2 separate regions of the Homo sapiens genome follow, and region 2 is linked to region 1. The links come from fine-mapping of genetic effects on gene expression. Tissue or cell type: pituitary. Region 1 holds a variant in brackets; the other region holds the start of a gene. All regions are shown on one strand. Distances are between the middles of the regions.

Evidence for each region. PIP is the estimated chance that this variant, and not a neighbour inherited with it, causes the effect.
Region 2: LYSMD1 starts here. The variant in region 1 is fine-mapped to the expression of LYSMD1 in pituitary (GTEx, PIP 0.99).

What each region holds. Positions count from the first base shown.
Region 1 is chr1:151,187,878-151,196,135 of GRCh38, reverse strand. VPS72 (vacuolar protein sorting 72 homolog) reads left to right here and starts at 5,939. Exons shown (of 6, transcript NM_005997.3): 1 at 5,939-6,131. The coding sequence starts at 6,015. It also overlaps a transcript of PIP5K1A not described here. RefSeq lists enhancers at 5,795-5,854, 5,895-5,964. The variant C/T (reference allele first, on the strand shown) is at 3,593.
Region 2 is chr1:151,161,432-151,169,431 of GRCh38, reverse strand. LYSMD1 (LysM domain containing 1) reads left to right here and starts at 3,530. Exons shown (of 3, transcript NM_212551.5): 1 at 3,530-4,353; 2 at 7,332-7,696. The coding sequence starts at 4,174. TNFAIP8L2-SCNM1 (TNFAIP8L2-SCNM1 readthrough) reads right to left here. Exons shown (of 7, transcript NR_144937.2): 2 at 2,891-2,961; 3 at 2,410-2,498; 4 at 2,214-2,311; 5 at 2,018-2,106; 6 at 1,094-1,283; 7 at 1-446. It overlaps SCNM1 (sodium channel modifier 1), which reads right to left and starts at 3,288. Exons shown (of 7, transcript NM_024041.4): 1 at 3,229-3,288; 2 at 2,891-2,961; 3 at 2,410-2,498; 4 at 2,214-2,311; 5 at 2,018-2,106; 6 at 1,094-1,288; 7 at 1-446. The coding sequence starts at 3,279. The coding sequence ends at 347. RefSeq lists enhancers at 3,240-3,289, 2,636-3,342, 3,310-3,589, 3,343-4,048.

The DNA of each region.
Region 1 (8,258 bases):
CACGAGGTCAGGAGATCGAGACCATCCTGGCTAACACAGTGAAACCCCGTCTTTACTAAAAATACAAAAAATTAGCCGGGTGAGTTGGCCGGCGCCTGTAGTAGCCCCAGCTACTCGGGAGGCTGAGGCAGGAGAATGGCATGAACCTGGGAGGCGGAGCTTGCACTGAGCCGAGATCGTGCCACTGCACTGCAGCCTGGGCGACAGAGCGAGACTCCGTCTCAAAAAAAAAAAAAAAAAAAAAAAAAAAATCGGCTGGTGTTGATGTAAAGCTGTTTCTGATTTTAAAATTGGAAACAGACTAATAAATCCCAGAATGACCAACGCAGTCAAACAGAGGAATCTTCTCCCTGTGAGCTAATCTGTGAATTCCATTTTATTTTATTTTTGAGACAGAGTCTGGCTCTGTCACCCAGGCTGGAGTGCAGTGGCGCTTGGCTTACTGCAACCTCCACCTCCCGGGTTCAAGCGATTCTCCTGCCTCAGCCTCCCGAGTAGCTGGGACTACAGGCATGCACCACCACGCCCAGCTAATTTTTTATATTTTTAATTTTTATTTTCATCAAGTACTATTTTTATTTTTAATTTCACCAACTCCCACTCAGTCCCTGGGGCGCCCCCACTCCCACTCAGTACCTGGGGTGTCCTCTGAGTCATGGAACCACTCCTCCCCGGTAACATTCCTGGCATAGTAGAACTGTGGTGACGTGGCAGGGTGTGGAAACAGGGGCAGAGCAGGACATGTTGGCTTAGTGCCCCAAGGAAACAGAAAAGGGAGTTCACCAATACATACTTTGGGAAAGGGGGTACAATCTGATGACCTCAAAGTAGGGCCACAGGTACAGACTTCAGTACATGTGAGTACACACCCACACCTTTATTAAAGTGTCATTCATATCTTAGAACAGTTTCTTTATTTTATTTATTTATTTATTTTATTATTGTTTTTTTTTTGAGACAGAGTCTCCCTCTGTCGCCCAGGCTAGAGTGCAGTGGCGCGATCTTGGCTCGCTGCAACTTCCGCCTCCCGGGTTCAAGCGATTCTCCTGCATCAGCCTCCCAAGTAGCTGGGATTACAGGCACAAACCACCACGTCCGGCTAATTTTTTGTATCTTTAGTAGAGACAGGGTTTCACTGTGTTAGCCAGGATGGTCTCGATCTCTTGACCTCGTGATCTGCCTGCCTCGGCCTCCCTAAGTGCTGGGATTACAGGTATGAGCTACTGCGCCCGGCCAGAAAAGTTTCTAAGATTAGAATGAAGTGATGGGGACTGGCAAGAGCAAGGAAAGGATTCTACAATAAGAGGATGGGCTATTTATTCAATTAATCATTCATTAATTAATTCACTCAATTAACATTATTTAGCCCAAGCTACGTCCCAGGCACTATTAGAGTTCCTGGAATACACAGATGACCATTAAGCCCATCATCAGGCAGGATGGCTCACTCCTGTAATCCCAACACTTTGGGAGCTGAGGCAGGCAGATTGCTTGAGCCCAGGGGTTCAAGACTAGCCTGGGCAACATGGCAAAAATCCTATCTCTACAAAAAATACAAAAATTCGCTGAGCGTGGTGGTGCGCACCTGTAGTCACAGCTACTAAGGAAACTGAGATGGGTGGATCACTTGAGCCCAGGAGGTCAAGGCTGCAGTAAGCTAAAATTGCACCACTACTCTCCAGCCTGGGCGACAGAGCAAAACCATGTCTCCAAAACAATTTTTTTTAATTAAAAAAAGGAAAAGATTAAGCCCCTGCCCTCAAAAAGATCACAGACTAATGAGGGGAACAGACATGTGAATCATTAGAATACAATGTAATAGGTGCCATCATAAAGTTTGTGTAAGTGCTATGGTTTGATAACCATATTTTCAGAATAAAAAATGAGAACAGTCTTTACAACAGACAATATTTGAGATTGGAACTATTCCAGAGACTACAGAAGACATCATCTCCATAGTTATATGAATTGTGCCTGGAAAGAGAGGAATGGGTGTTCAGGAAGACTCCACTCTCCCATAAAATTAGAAAAGAAAGGAAAGGGATTCTAAGGAGAAAGAAAGGCATAGAGGCATGACAGAGAATTGGGTGTTAGGGGAGAGATGCTGGAGTAGTGATGTCGCAGGAGGTGTGACTAGAAGGACAGGGAGAGGCTAAATTATGAAGGATCTGAATACTGAATGCCATGTAGTAGTTACCACCTACTACACATTTACTATGCACTTACTAAACACTGTGCTAAGCAGTTGACAAGAATTATCTCTCTCTGTCTTTTTTTTTTTTTTTTTTTTTTTTTGAGACAGAATGTGGCTCTGTCGCCCGGGCTGGAGTGCAGTGGTGCTATCTTGGCTCACTGCAACCTCCGTCTCCTGGGTTCAAGCTATTCTCCTGCCTCAGCCTCTCGACTAGCTGGGACTACAGGCACCCGCCACCATGCCTGGGTAATTTTTATATTTTCAGTAGAGATGGGGTTTCACCATACTGGCCACGCTGGTCTCGAACTACTGACCTTGTGATCTACCCGCCTCGGCCTCCCAAAGTACTGGGATTATAGGCGTGAGCCATGGCACCTGGCCAATAATTATATCTCTTAATCTTCTACGACCTTAAAAGATAGGTATTATTATCAGTCCCACTTTGCAGATGAGAAAACTGAGATTCAGAGAAGTAAAGCAACTTGTCCAAAGTCATACAGCTAAAAGACCTTAAAGTTCACACTCAAATTCAGGTCTGGCTGGCTCTAAAGCTGTGTTCTCTTTTTGTTGTTGTTTTATTTTATTTTAATTTTTAATTGGCACATAATTGTACATATTTATGGGGCACATAGTGATGTTTCAATACATAAAATGTTTAGTGATCAGATCAGGATAATTAGTATATCTGTCATCTAAAAAATGTATCATTTATTTATTTATTTATTTTGAGATGGTGTCTCGCTCTGTCATCCAAGCTGGAGTGCAGTGGCACGACGTTGGCTCACTACAACCTCCACCTCCCGGTTTCAAGTGATTCTCATGTCTCAGCCTCCTAAGTAGCTGGAACTACAGGCACCTGCCACCACTCCTGGCCAATTTGCGTACTTTTTAGTAAAGACAAGGTTTCACCATGTCAGTCAGGCTTGTCTTGAACTACCGACCTCAAATAATCTGCCCACCTTAACCTCCCAAAGTGCTGGGATTACAGGCGTGAGCCACCGTGCCTGGCCTCACAAATATATAATTTATTTGTCTCCAGCACAAACATTCAATATCCTTCTTCTAGCTATTTGAAAATATTATTGTTAATCATAGTTATCCCCCAGTGATATAGAACACTAGAATTTTTTTTTTTTTTTTTGAGATGGAGTCTCACTCTTGTTGCCCAGGCTAGAGTGCAATGGTGCGATCTTGGTTCACTGCAACCTCCGCCTCCGGGGTTCAAGTGATTCTCCTGCCTCTGCCTCCTAGTAGGTGGGATTACAGGCACCCGCCAACGTGCTCGGCTAATTTTTGTATTTTTAGTAGAGATGGGGTTTCGCCATGTTGGCCAGGCTAGTCTCAAACTCCTGATCTAAGGTGATCTGCCCACTTCAGCCTCCCAAAGTTTTGGGATTA[C/T]AGGTGTGAGCCACCACACCCGGCCAAGAACACTAGAATTTATTCCTCCTATCTAAATGTAATTTGGGGCCAAGCGAGGTGGCTCACACCTGTAATCCCAGCACATTGAGAGGCTGAGGAGTGGGGATCACTTGAGCTCAGGTGATCACCGTGGGCAACATGATGAAATCTCATCTCCACAAAAAGTACAAAAAATTAGCCAGGCGTGGTGACACGAGCCTGTAGTTCCAGCTACCCACGAGGCTGAGGTGCGATGATCACTTGAACCCAGGAGGTCGAGACTGCAGTGAGCAGTGATTGCATCACTGTATTCCAGCCTGGGTGACAAAGTGAGATCCTATCTCAAACAAACAAACAAACGAACAAACAAATGTAATTGGGGGCCAGTGTGGTGGCTCACAGCTGTAATCCTAGCACTTTTGGAAGCCAAGGTGGGAGGACAGCTTGAGCCCAGGAGGTCAAGGAGGCAGTGAGCCATGATCCTGCTGCTGCACTCCAGCCTGGGCAATAGAGACCCTGTCTCAAAAAAAATTGTAATTTTGTGTCTTTTTTTTTTTTCTTTTGAGATGGAGTCTTGCTCTGTTGCCAGGCTGGAGTGCAGTGGCACAATCTCAGCTCACTGCAACCTCTGCCTCCCGGGTTCAAGCGATTCTCCTGCCTCAGCCTCCCTAGTAGCTGGGACTACAGGTGCGCGCCACCACACCCAGCTAATTTTTGTATTTGTAGTAGATACGGGGTTTCACCATGTTGGCCAGGATGGTCACAATCTCTTGACCTCGGGATCTGCCCGCTTCAGCCTCCCAAAGTGCTGGGATTACAGGTGTGAGCCACTGTGCCAGGCCCAATTTTGTCTTTTTTTTTTTTCTGAGACGGAGTCTTGCTCTGTTTCCCAGGCTGGAGAGCAAATGGCGCGATCTCGGCTCACTGCAACCTCCGCCTCCCGAGTTCAAGCAATTCTCTGCCTCAGCCTCTCGAGTATCTGGGATAACAGGCGCCCACCACCACGACCAGCTAATTTTTGTATTTTTAGTAGAGATGGGGTTTCGCCATCTTGGCCAGGCTGGTCGTGAACTCCTGACCTCATGATCCACCCCCTTCGGCCTCCCAAAGTGCTGGGATTACAGGTGTGAGCCACAATTTTGTGTCTTTTAACAAATCTTTCCCTGTCCCTTCCTTCCCCCTGCTCTTCCCAGCCTCCAGTATCCTCTGTTCTTTCACTTCTATGAAATCAACTTTTTAAAAGCGTCACATATGAGTGAGAACATGCAGTGTTTTAACTTTCTGTTCGTGGCTTAAGTCAGTTAACATGTCCTCCAGTTCCATCCATGTTGCTGCAAATGACAGGATTTTCTTCTTTTTAATGGCTGAAAAGTATTCCATTGTGTATATACACCCTATTTCCTTTATTCATCTGTTGTTGGACACAGAGATTGATTTCCTATTTTGGCTACTCTAAGTAGTGCTGCAATAAATATGGGGGTGCATAAATATGGAGTGCAGACGTCTCTTGGATATACTGATTTCCTTTTTTTTTTTCCTCCTAAATTGGCTTCCTCAGGTTGAATTATGTCCTTTCCTTTGGATAAATGTCTATGGCTGTGTTTTTAACCACAATACTATGCTTCCTTCCTCAAGGATTTTTGACTTTATCTTGTAGATGATGTGGAGCCATTAAAAATGTTTGAGGACAGGAGTGGCAAAACGTGGGTTTTTAGAAAGTTTCCTACTAGCAGCAGTGTAGAAAATGGACTGGAGCGGAGAGAATGACCTCTTCTAAAAGAAAATGTGAGCTGGGGGCGCAGGCTTATGCCTGTAATCCCAGCACTTTGGGAGGCCGAAGCGGGCGGATCACCTGAGGTCAGGAGTTCGAGACCAGCCTGGCCAACACGGTGAAAGCTGTCTCTACTAAAAATACAAAAATTAGTTGGGCATGGTGGCGGGCGCCTGTAATCCCAGCTACTCGGGGGACTGAGGCAGGAGAATCGCTTCAGCCCGGGGGACGGAGGTTGCAGTGAGCCGAGATCGTGCCACTGCACTCCAGTCTGGCGACAGAGCGAGGCGAGACTCCGTCCCTACGGAAAAAAAAAACCATATATATATATAAAATAAAAATAAATAAAATAAAATGTGTTGACTTAGGGTTATGGGGGTCTTCGTACCACCAAGTGGACTCATTGAGCAAGGGAGATCGCTGGGTACTAGAGCAAGCGGCCTAGAGCATCCGCGCAGGAGTAGGAGAGGCTGAAGAGTAAAGAGGGTTTAGAGGGTGGGACTGGGAGTCTCTCGACACTCTGTTACTTCTGCCTGTAAACGCCCGACTTCCGCCGCTGGTGGCCACCCGCAGGTAGTGATGTCGAGCGTCGAGCTCCCAAAACCGAGCTGGTGAGGGGCTGCAGGTGGCGGCGCAGTCTCGGTAGGCGGTATGAGTTTGGCTGGGGGCCGGGCACCCCGGAAGACCGCTGGGAACCGGCTTTCTGGGCTTTTGGAGGCAGAGGAGGAAGATGAGTTCTACCAGACGACTTATGGGGGTTTCACAGAGGCAAGATCCGGGCCTGGGAAAAGGGAGGGGAGGAGGCAAAGAGGAGCCCTGAAGGGAGAAACCCCGGACAAAGAAGAAGAGGGCGGGGAATAGAGAGGAGCTCTGGGAGCTGATACTCGAGTTGGGTGGGTGAATCGGAGCCGGGGGGCGAGGCGGGGGAACGGATAGTGTGGAGTCCTAGAAGGGAGAGCTCTGGATGGGGTCAAAGGGGCCTGAGACGGAGAAGCTCTCCGGAGGCACTCCAGAGAACAGAGAACGGCAGAAACCTACCGTATACTTGCGTGGTTGCATCTTTCACTGTACTTCTGACGTCCAGCATACACGAGGCACACACATAGTAGTAGACAGTTGCTCGATGTATACTCGTTGGCCCACTGCTGGATTATTCACCTGAGACATGGAAAGGAACCGCTCCAAAAGTAGAGGAGCTTAGCCCACTTCTTTTTCAGCTTTCAGGTCTCAGTGTAAATGTTTTCTCAGGAAGATAACCCTTCCTTGACTATCCTAACAAGTGTCCCCATTTATTTCTTCCACAGAACATATTTCAATTTGCAATTAGATTTGGTTTGCTTACTTGCTTATGCTTTTCTATTGCATTGTAAACTGTATAAAGTTAGAGATGGTCTGTTTTGTTCAACATTATGTGTGAGGTGTCCGGACTGGGCTGCCACTTGCTAAATTTTTATTAGTTGAATCTACCCGTTTATTAAATGTGTTGAGTACCCAGAGCATGCCATCGGTAATAGGTTGTTTTAGGCTCTAGGGAAACAGAATATTAAAAACAGTGCTCTGTCCTTACATACTCCATGCCCCAGTGGGGTAACTGCCTGGGTTAACAGTTAAAATACTGTGTGATAGGCCGAGCACAGTGGCTTTGGCCGGGCACAGTGGCTCACGCCTGTAATCCCAGCACTTTGGAAGGCCGAGGCGGGTGGATCACAAGGTCAGGAAATCGAGACCATCCTGGCCAACATGGTAAAACCCCCTGTCTCTATTAAAATACAAAAATTAGCCAAGCGTGGTGGTGTGCGCCTATAGTCCCAGCTACTCAGGAGGCTGAGGCAGAGAATCGCTTGAACCTGGGAGGAGGAGGTTGCAGTGAGCCGAGATCGTACCACTGCACTCCAGCCTGGGCGACAGAGCAGGACTCCGTCTCAAAAACAAACAAAAAATGTGTGATAAGGACTAAAACAAGGTGTAAGAGTGTTAAGGTAATACATCTGAACCAAAGTTGTTGATCAGGATAGGCATCCCTGGAGGGATGATGTTTAAGCTGAGGACAGTTTGAAAAGTAGACCTTAGCTTGATGAAAAGCAGGAGAAGGAGAAAGGTTAGTCCACAGAGCAGGATGGGCTGAGTATGTAAAGACATTGAGATCCTGGTCTAGGACCTGCAAGTCTACTTTCATTCTCCAGAGCATGAAGGAGACTAAAGATTGATAAGCCTGCAGGGAGTAGGCATGGGCCAGATCCTTTAGGGCCTTGTGAGCTATGTTAAGGAATTTTGCTCTTCATCCAGAGGACTGAGAAGAGTCATCAGAATTCCACGATGAAATTTGTACTTTAGGAAGGTTACTTACTCTGTAATGAGAATGGCTTGAAGGGGGCATGGCAGTAGAGAAACAGAAAGATTCAAGAGAAATTAAGGAATAGAACCCACAGGACTTAGGGGCTGGGTGTGGTGGCTCACGCCTGTAATTCCAGCACTTTGGGAGGCTGAGGCGGGTGGATCACGAGGTCAGGAGTTCGAGACCAGCCTGACCAACATGGTGAAACCCTGTCACTACTAAAAATGCAAAAAATTAGCTGGTTGTGGTGGCGTGTGCCTGTAATTCCAGCTACTTAGGAGGCTGAGGCAGGAGAATCACTTGAACCCAGGAGGCAGAGGTTGCAGTGGATTGCGCCACTGCCCTCCAGCCTGGGCGACAGAGTGAGACTCTGTCTCAAAAAAAAAAAAAACCCACATCACTGACAGAGTCATTACTGACACAGCCCTAACCAACTAGTTTAAAATAGAACTTTCTCATCCCTCCTCTAAGGCCATTTTCCTATTTCTGTCATTTTACGACTTGTTATTTAATATGTACCCTTCATGCTTCCAAAAAGGATTTAAGGAGGCTTACAATAT
Region 2 (8,000 bases), 27 kb after region 1:
TCTACTAAAAATACAAAAAATTAGCTGGGCATGGTGGCGGGCGCCTGTAGTCCCAGCTACTCAGGAGGCTGAGGCAGGAGAAAGGCGTGAACCTGGGAGGCAGAGCTTGCAGTGAGCCGAGATCGTGCCACTGCACTCCAGCCTGGGCGATAGAGCGAGACTCTGCCTCAAAAAAAAAAAAAAAAAAAAAAGGAGTGTGGAGAGCTGTGTACCTTGCAGGCAAGGAGTAGTTGGAATGAGAATGAACAGATCTGAAATCCTGAGATCCAACAAGGAACCAGACTTAAGGAAAGTTAAGTTCTCAGCACCCATTGTAATTTATTTGTGAATGAATGGGAAAAGGGTATCAGTCCAAGGGGAGATCAGGTGGTTCCTCCTCATCAGAGTCAAACTCAACATTTTCATCTTTTACCCATCGACCTCGTCCATCTGGGATCCATCCAGAGCTGGAAACATCAGAGAAAATAGCATCGATCAGGAAAGAGGCTTATTAAGAAGTTAGTGGTGAGCTCACACCAGTAATCCCAGCACTCTGGGAGGCCGAGGCAGGTGGATCACTTGAGGTCAGGAGTTCGAGACCAGCCTGACCAACATAGTGAAACCCTGTCTCTACCAAAAAAAAAAAAAAAAAAAAAAAAAAAGTTAGCAGTGAGAAAAAATTGAGAGCCATGTAAGTTGGGTGGCTAAAACAAAACGAAACCAAAGATGGAAAACAACAATGGGAGTCCGGGTGCGGTGGCTCACACCTGTAATCCCAACACTTTAGGAAACTGAGGCAGGTGGATCACCTGAGGTCAGGAGTTCGAGGCCAGCCTGACCAACATGGAGAAACCCCGTCTCTACTAAAAATACAAAATTAGCCGGGCGTGATGGCACATGCCTGTAATCCCAGCTACTCGGGAGCCTGAGGCAGGAGAATCGCTTGAACCCAGGAGGTGGAGGTTACAGTGAGCCGAGAGCGTGCCATTGCACTCCAGCTGGGGCAACAAGAGTGAAACTCCATCTCAAAAAAAAAAAAAGGAAAAACAATAGCTTTGAAACAAGGGTGTCAGAGAGAAAAGAAAATCTGAGGAAACTGATTAGGCATACTCACCTTCGAAGGGTGAGATAATGGTCCAGGGCTCGTCTTCTTGTGGGGCTCATGGGTGCAGGGGCTGAGACAGTTGCTGACTCCTCGGCCTGTGGGCCAGCCGCAGGTTCAGGTTCCCTACTGATCTTCCCACTTTGGAGTTTGACCTCTGAGGGTGGCATAGGGGAAAGGGAGACAGAGGGACCAGGGGCTTCTGGTCTAGGTAGAGAAGAATAGTCTGTAAAAGCAGTAAGGGAAAGGGCCAACTCTCCTATGACTCCCAACCTCTTAAAACAGTGCTTCTTAAACTATATTTCTCAAGATATTAATAAGTTCTGCATACAAAGGATTTCAGAATCATGAATTTGGGAAAGGCTAGCTTAAAATTTTACAAGTTTTTTTTAATCTTAAGACTTTGTATAGTTTTTAAAACTGTTATTCTTCAAGTAGAATTACAAAGTGCCATTTCCCAAACTTTATTTAAAAATCACAAAATTCTCCTTTTCTTTTTCTTTCTTTTCTTTTTTTTTTGAGATGGAGTCTCACTCTGTCACCCAGGCTGGAGTGAAGTGGTGTGACCGTGGCTCACTGCAACCTCTGTCTCCCGGATTCAAGCAATTCTCCTGCCTCAGCCTCTTGAGTAGCTGGGATTACAGGCACACACCACACACCCAGCTAATTTTTTACATTTTTGGTAGAGACAGGATTTCACCATGTTGGCCAGGCTGGTCTTGAACTCCTGACCTCAAGTGATCCACCCACCTCAGCCTCCAAAAGTGCTGGGATTACAGGCGTGAGTCACCGCGCCCAGCCAAAATTCTCCTTTTCTTGAAACACTAAGTAACATCTCCAGAACACTAGTATTCCTCAGAATACACACTGGAAAACTCTTTTAGAGCCATCTGTCTCCTTCTGAGCCTTCCTACCTCTGGCTTTCCCGTCCCATACCTGTACTTCCGGCGGCAGCAACTGTTATAGTGGGGAGCTCTGTGCAGAGCACTCTGGGTGATAAGTCGTGTCTGAGTTAGCAGAGGAGCCTGGTAAGGAGATGGGAGACAGAGTCAGAGCCTTCAGCCCTCCGCCCTTCCAGCCTGGTGTGTGCAGCAGGGTCTTGCCTAGAACACACTCTCCACTCTCTGATTACCTCAGCTTTGGTTTCTTCCCTTCTCAATTCATTCTGATGTTTTGGATTCTGCTTTCTTTCCTTTCCCGGCTGCTTCTTGCCATAGAAAAGCTGCAAGCCTGAGGAGAAAGGGAAACAGAATTAAAAGCATAGCACCAAGAGTGGTGTGCAGAGATTTCGAGGGTTTATTCCCCATCCCGTCTTCCCCCTAACTTACTGGACAGATGTTTCTTGCCTGCACGGTGGGCAGTCAGCATGGCCAGGGTGTCCAGTACCGGTCGATGGGGGCAGATGGCACAAGCAAAGCTGAGCAGGGGTAGAGAAGAGGATAAGTGGTCCAGGGGAAGAGGGTTGGGCCCGTCCCTGCCATAGGTCCCACCCTGTCCTAGCAGTCTTTGCAAAACCCAACTCCCTGGTGACCCAATCTCCACTTCTTCCAGTCCTCACTGGCCGCCAAAGAATCCTAGGTACTCCTGCTGTCCTAATTAATAACAAAAGTTTGTTGAAGCCAGGCGTGGTGGCATGCGCTTGTAAACCCAGCTAATCGCGACGCTGAGGAGGCAGGATCACTTGAGCCCTAGAGTTCGAGGGCAGCCTGGGCAGCACCGCGAGACCTCCGTCTCAAAGGAAAAAAAAAAAAAAGTCTATTGAGCCTCTAACCGCAGAACCCTCAGGCTTGAGCCACTCCTTGCTCTTACCGTCCATCCCGAAGCATCAGCGCCTCATCCTCTGGAATGTAACTGGCTAGGAGGTCCCCGACTCTTCTTTTCTGCAGGGAGTAGGGGAAGAAATCCGGACGGGATCAGCGGGATAGGAGAGAGGGGTGGAAGTGAAATTATAGAAATGAGGAGTGAAATGGAATAAGGACCCTGGGGAGAACAGCGATCATAGACCGAAAAAGGAGTCACTACACAGCTCTAAGTCGCCTGGTTCTCTCCTGCACCCCCGAGTTGTTGCCAGAGCAATGAAACAAAGCTCCTTCCCAACCTTCAGGGAGCGACTGAAGCGGCTCCAGATCCTCTCCGCTCACGCTTACTTTGAGCACATTGAGTTGACTCCAATCGTCTCCTTCCCTCTTGAAAGACATCACGACTGTGAGTCCCAGAAGTGATAAATTCTCTGTTCCGGTTTCGCCACTCCTCCAGGCCACCGTAGCAAGAGCGGGACAGCGCCTTCTCTTTTTTCCTTCTCTTCCTGTCGGCCTCCGTACTTCCGGGGACGCACTTCCACGCATGCATTGCGCGATCCGGAAATCCACTCTCTGGTGCTCGGAGGGAACTGCATTTCCTATGGTGCCCTGCGACTCCGCAGACGCGGAGCCTTTTGGGAAATGAAGTCTTTTCTCAAAGACCTTGCCGCTCAACTGGATCCAGGCCCTTGCATCTTGGCGGATCTGAGGCGTTTGGAGGGACAACAACCTAGATGTGGAGCCGAAATTTGAGGGTGTGACCTATCTTATGCGGAGCGGACCTTTGAGGATCTCTGAGTGGAAGGTGTACTACAAATTCTTGCAATCCTCACGCTCTTCGTCTGCGGCGACAGTTCACCTGGGGTGGGCCTGATTTGTTCCTGACTCTAGCAAACAAACCCCGGGACCGGGGAGAGCTGGGATGTTGGAGCGCCCTGAGGCCAGGCTACTTGGGGGCAAACTGAGGAAAGAGTGTTGAGGATTATTTCTAGAGTTCAAAGGTCAGAGGTCAATGTAGCGAGGAGTTGTGGGGGAGTCCAAAGTCGGAGGGGTGCTTAGGGGAGAATTAGGGAGGGACTGAATACTCAAGGGACAGATTTGTGGATAAGTAGCTTGGAGGGAGGAGAAACCGGGAGGGGGCAGATGGCGTAGTGCTGGGGAGGCGGGGACACAGGGGAAGAGAGAGGGGGAAAGGAATCCCCTGAATATTCATTCCCAGACTTCAGGCCTGTCAGTCGCAGTCTCGGTCGTACCTCCCCTAGTTGCAACCTTAGCTGTTGGCAGGGTGAAGAGATGGCTTCCCCGTCTAGACAGCCCCCGCCAGGGGGGTCAGGACTGCTTCAAGGGAGCCGGGCTCGTTCATATGGAAGCCTGGTGCAATCGGCCTGCTCCCCAGTGAGGGAAAGACGCCTGGAGCATCAGTTGGAGCCCGGAGACACCCTGGCTGGACTAGCACTCAAATATGGGGTGACGGTGAGTTTTCCAGGATTGGGGTGAAGACAACAGTCAGGAGGGATTTAGTCCTGAGAAGAATGTAGTGGCCCTTCTAGGTAACCTCCCCTGAAATGTTCCTAATGTGTTGCACTCTGTTCTGCCTTTATCTTTGTTTTCCCATCACAGTGTTGCACAAGTCCTGCCCTACTATTCCAACGGAGAGGAACAGCTCCTATTTTATTATGCCAGACACTGTGCTGAGGGCTTCACATACGTTAGCTCATTTCACCCTCACATCTGTATCAAGTATACATTTATCGTTCCCTTTTGGCAGATGAAGAAACTGAGACTTGGATTGGTTAACCAGTTTGGCTAAGGTCAAATAATGAGCGTCAGATTTGGGATTCAAACAGGTCTGTCTGACTCTATTAACCACACAGAAAATTTTATGTTGAGAGTGATTAAACGTTTACAGCAACTAATGGAGAGCTGATTTTTAGTTCTCAGTTCCTAAAGTGCCCACCTCTCCTTGCTCTTGGTTCCTCCTCAATGCTCTGCCTTCTTTCCAGTAAGGTGGCCTCCTTTGTGCAAAACAGGTACTCTACACCAAGTATTTCAGGTCATGCATGGGGGAAATTGGATAGATGTAAAAATGTACAGCATTGAAGTTGATGGGGTTACTCCCCCTATCCCTGCCCCTGTTTTCTTGTTCCATCTCACTCAAACAAATGTTGAATTTAGCCAACATTTTTATGCTTGCTGTATTTAAAGCACTGTGATAACTTTTCTGGGAGATAGAAACTTAAACTATATGGTTGCTGTCCTCATGTAATTTATGGCCTAATGAGAAATGAACAGGGACACAAATAATGATTACAAGTGACAGAATGTGGTGAGTTTGTAAAGGTATTAACAACGAATAGGGGTCAGGCATGGTGGCTCACCCCTGTAATCCCAGCACTTTGGGAGGCAGAGGCAAGTGGATCACCTAAGGTTACGAGTACGAGACCAGTCTGGCCAACATGGTGAAACCCTGTCTCTACTAAAAATACAAAAATTAGCCGGGCGTGGTGGTGCTCACCTGTAATCCCAGCTACTCAGGAGGCTGAGGCGGGAGAATCGCTTGAACCCAGGAGGGGGAGGTTGCGATGAGCTGAGATCGCACCACTGCACTCCAGCACTCCAGCCTGGGCAACAGAGTGAGACACACACACACACACACACACACACACACACACAAAGATAGGAAATCAGAAAAGATTAAATTTCAGTTGGAAAGGGGCTGTGGTGGGCCAGGCGTGGTGGCTCATGCCTGTAATCCCAGCACTTTGGGAGGCTGAGGTGGGTGGATTGCTTGAGCTCGGGAGTACAGGACCATTCTGGGCAATGTGGTGAAACCCCATCTCTACAACAAATACAAAAATTAGCCGGGCATGGTGGCATGTGCCTGTAATCCCACCTACTGGGGAGGCTGAGGCAGAGGATCACTTGAGCTGGGGAAGCGGAGGTTTCAGTGAGCCGAGATCGCGCCACTACACTCCAGGCTGGGCGACAGAGTGAGACCTTGTCTCCAAAAAAAGAAAGAAAGAAAGAAAGAAAATACGAATACACTATATCTGTAGTTTCTATATTTCATTATCTAATTATGATAATAATTACATAATTATAAGTAATAGTTTTTAAATAAAGCATTAATGAGCCCCTGCTATGTGTCAAGGTCTGTAGGATGCTAATGACTTCCTGGGGATACAGAGACAGCAAGTCACAATCCTTGCCCTTAAAGGACTTATAGGGTTTAGGCAAAGCAGATATTTAAAGAGGTGAATAATATTATAGTAGGGTTATGTATTATTATAGCAATATTTACAGTATGCATTGGGAGCCCTGAAGAAGGTAGCACAAAGGGAGTGATAGTTGATGAATACAAGTTTTCCAAGCAGAGAATGGGATAGTAGGGGGGTGGGAGCATTTCAGGCAGAAGTAACAGCATGAATAAAGTGTGAAAAAGATCATGGAATGTTCAAAGAAAAATAAAAAGTTCAGGATAGCAAAATGTAGAGGTGGCAGAGGGAGATTAATCTAGACATTTCCTTTGGGAGCTGGATTGAGAAAGCCCTTGAATGCTAATTTGGTTTTTATCTTTTAGCCAGTGCGGAGCCATAGGTGGGTAGTGGGTTAATCAGATTTATTTTTTTAGAAAGATAGATGCCAAGAGGAGGATGAGTAGAAATAGAGCGAGGAAGGCCAGTTAAACTGTTGCAATAACCCCAGATGAGAAATACTGAGGGTCTATTTTAAATCTTTGGCAGTAGGAAGGTGAGACCAGATGTGAGAGAGATTTTTGAAGCAGTTTTGTTGACCACTTGGTATGGTGATGAAAGGCAAGTATTAGTTAAGGATGACATTGATGTTTCTACCTTGGGAGGCCAGGCAGATAGATGGTGATGCCAGTCACTATGTCCAGTGATGAATAAATAGGTCAAAATAAATATTTATTAATGACATTGTTAATAGTATAGTGTGAAAAGCATTCTCAGAAGCAGTGAAAAGACCCAGGATTGTCATTCTAGCTCTGTCATTAACTTGATAGATAATTTTAGGAAAGTAGCTTAACCTCTCTGAGCCTCAGTTCCTTCATTTTTATTTATTCATTAATTTATTTATTCATTTATTTTTAATTTTTTAATTTTTAGAAATGGCGTCTCACTATATTACTCAGGCTGGACTCTAATTCCCGGGCTCAAGCTATCCTCCCTCCTCAGCCTCCTGAGTAGCTGGAATTATAGGCATCAGACATTGCGCCTGGCTTGCACAATAATTTTTTAAAATGTAAGGGGGCCCTAAGACCAAAAAGTGTGAAAACCACTCATCTATAGAATAGAAATAATGTCAGCCCTTTGTACTTTAGCTTGGTTGTTATGGAATCAAAGAAGACTCTGTACAGTCACTTTAAAAAGCTCAAGATGTAAGATTGATCATTATTACTGTCCTTAATTTTGGTGACTTTTTTTTTTAAGATGGAACAGATTAAACGTGCAAACCGCCTTTATACTAATGACTCCATCTTCCTGAAGAAAACCCTCTACATCCCCATCCTGACAGAGCCCAGAGACCTGTTCAATGGTTTGGACTCTGAGGAAGAGAAAGATGGAGAGGAAAAAGTACACCCAAGTAACAGTGAAGTTTGGCCACACTCAACTGAGAGGAAGAAACAAGAGACAGGAGCAGGACGTGCCAATGGTGAAGTCCTCCCCACACCTGGCCAGGAAACCCCCACGCCCATCCATGACCTCTCTGCCTCTGATTTCCTTAAGAAGCTTGATTCACAGATCAGCCTGTCCAAGAAGGCTGCTGCTCAGAAGCTGAAAAAAGGGGAAAATGGGTGAGTCTTGAATGGTTCCTTATAAGTTCCTCCCTAGACTCCTCCATCATTCCTGTCTTACCTAACCACAAACACAAGTAAGTAAGGACAGTGCCAACAGAGGCAAGGTGATACCTTTCCCCCATGTGGCCCCAAGATAATGAGCAGAGGTGATGGCTGCTGGCCTGGGTAGAGGCAGTGGAAAACTGGGTTCTGTGTTCTTATTGGAGTCAGACAGTTAACTATTTTTTTTTTTTTTTGAGACGGGGTCTTGCTCTGTTGCCCAGGCTGGAGTGCAGTGGCGCGATCTTGGCTCACTGCAAGC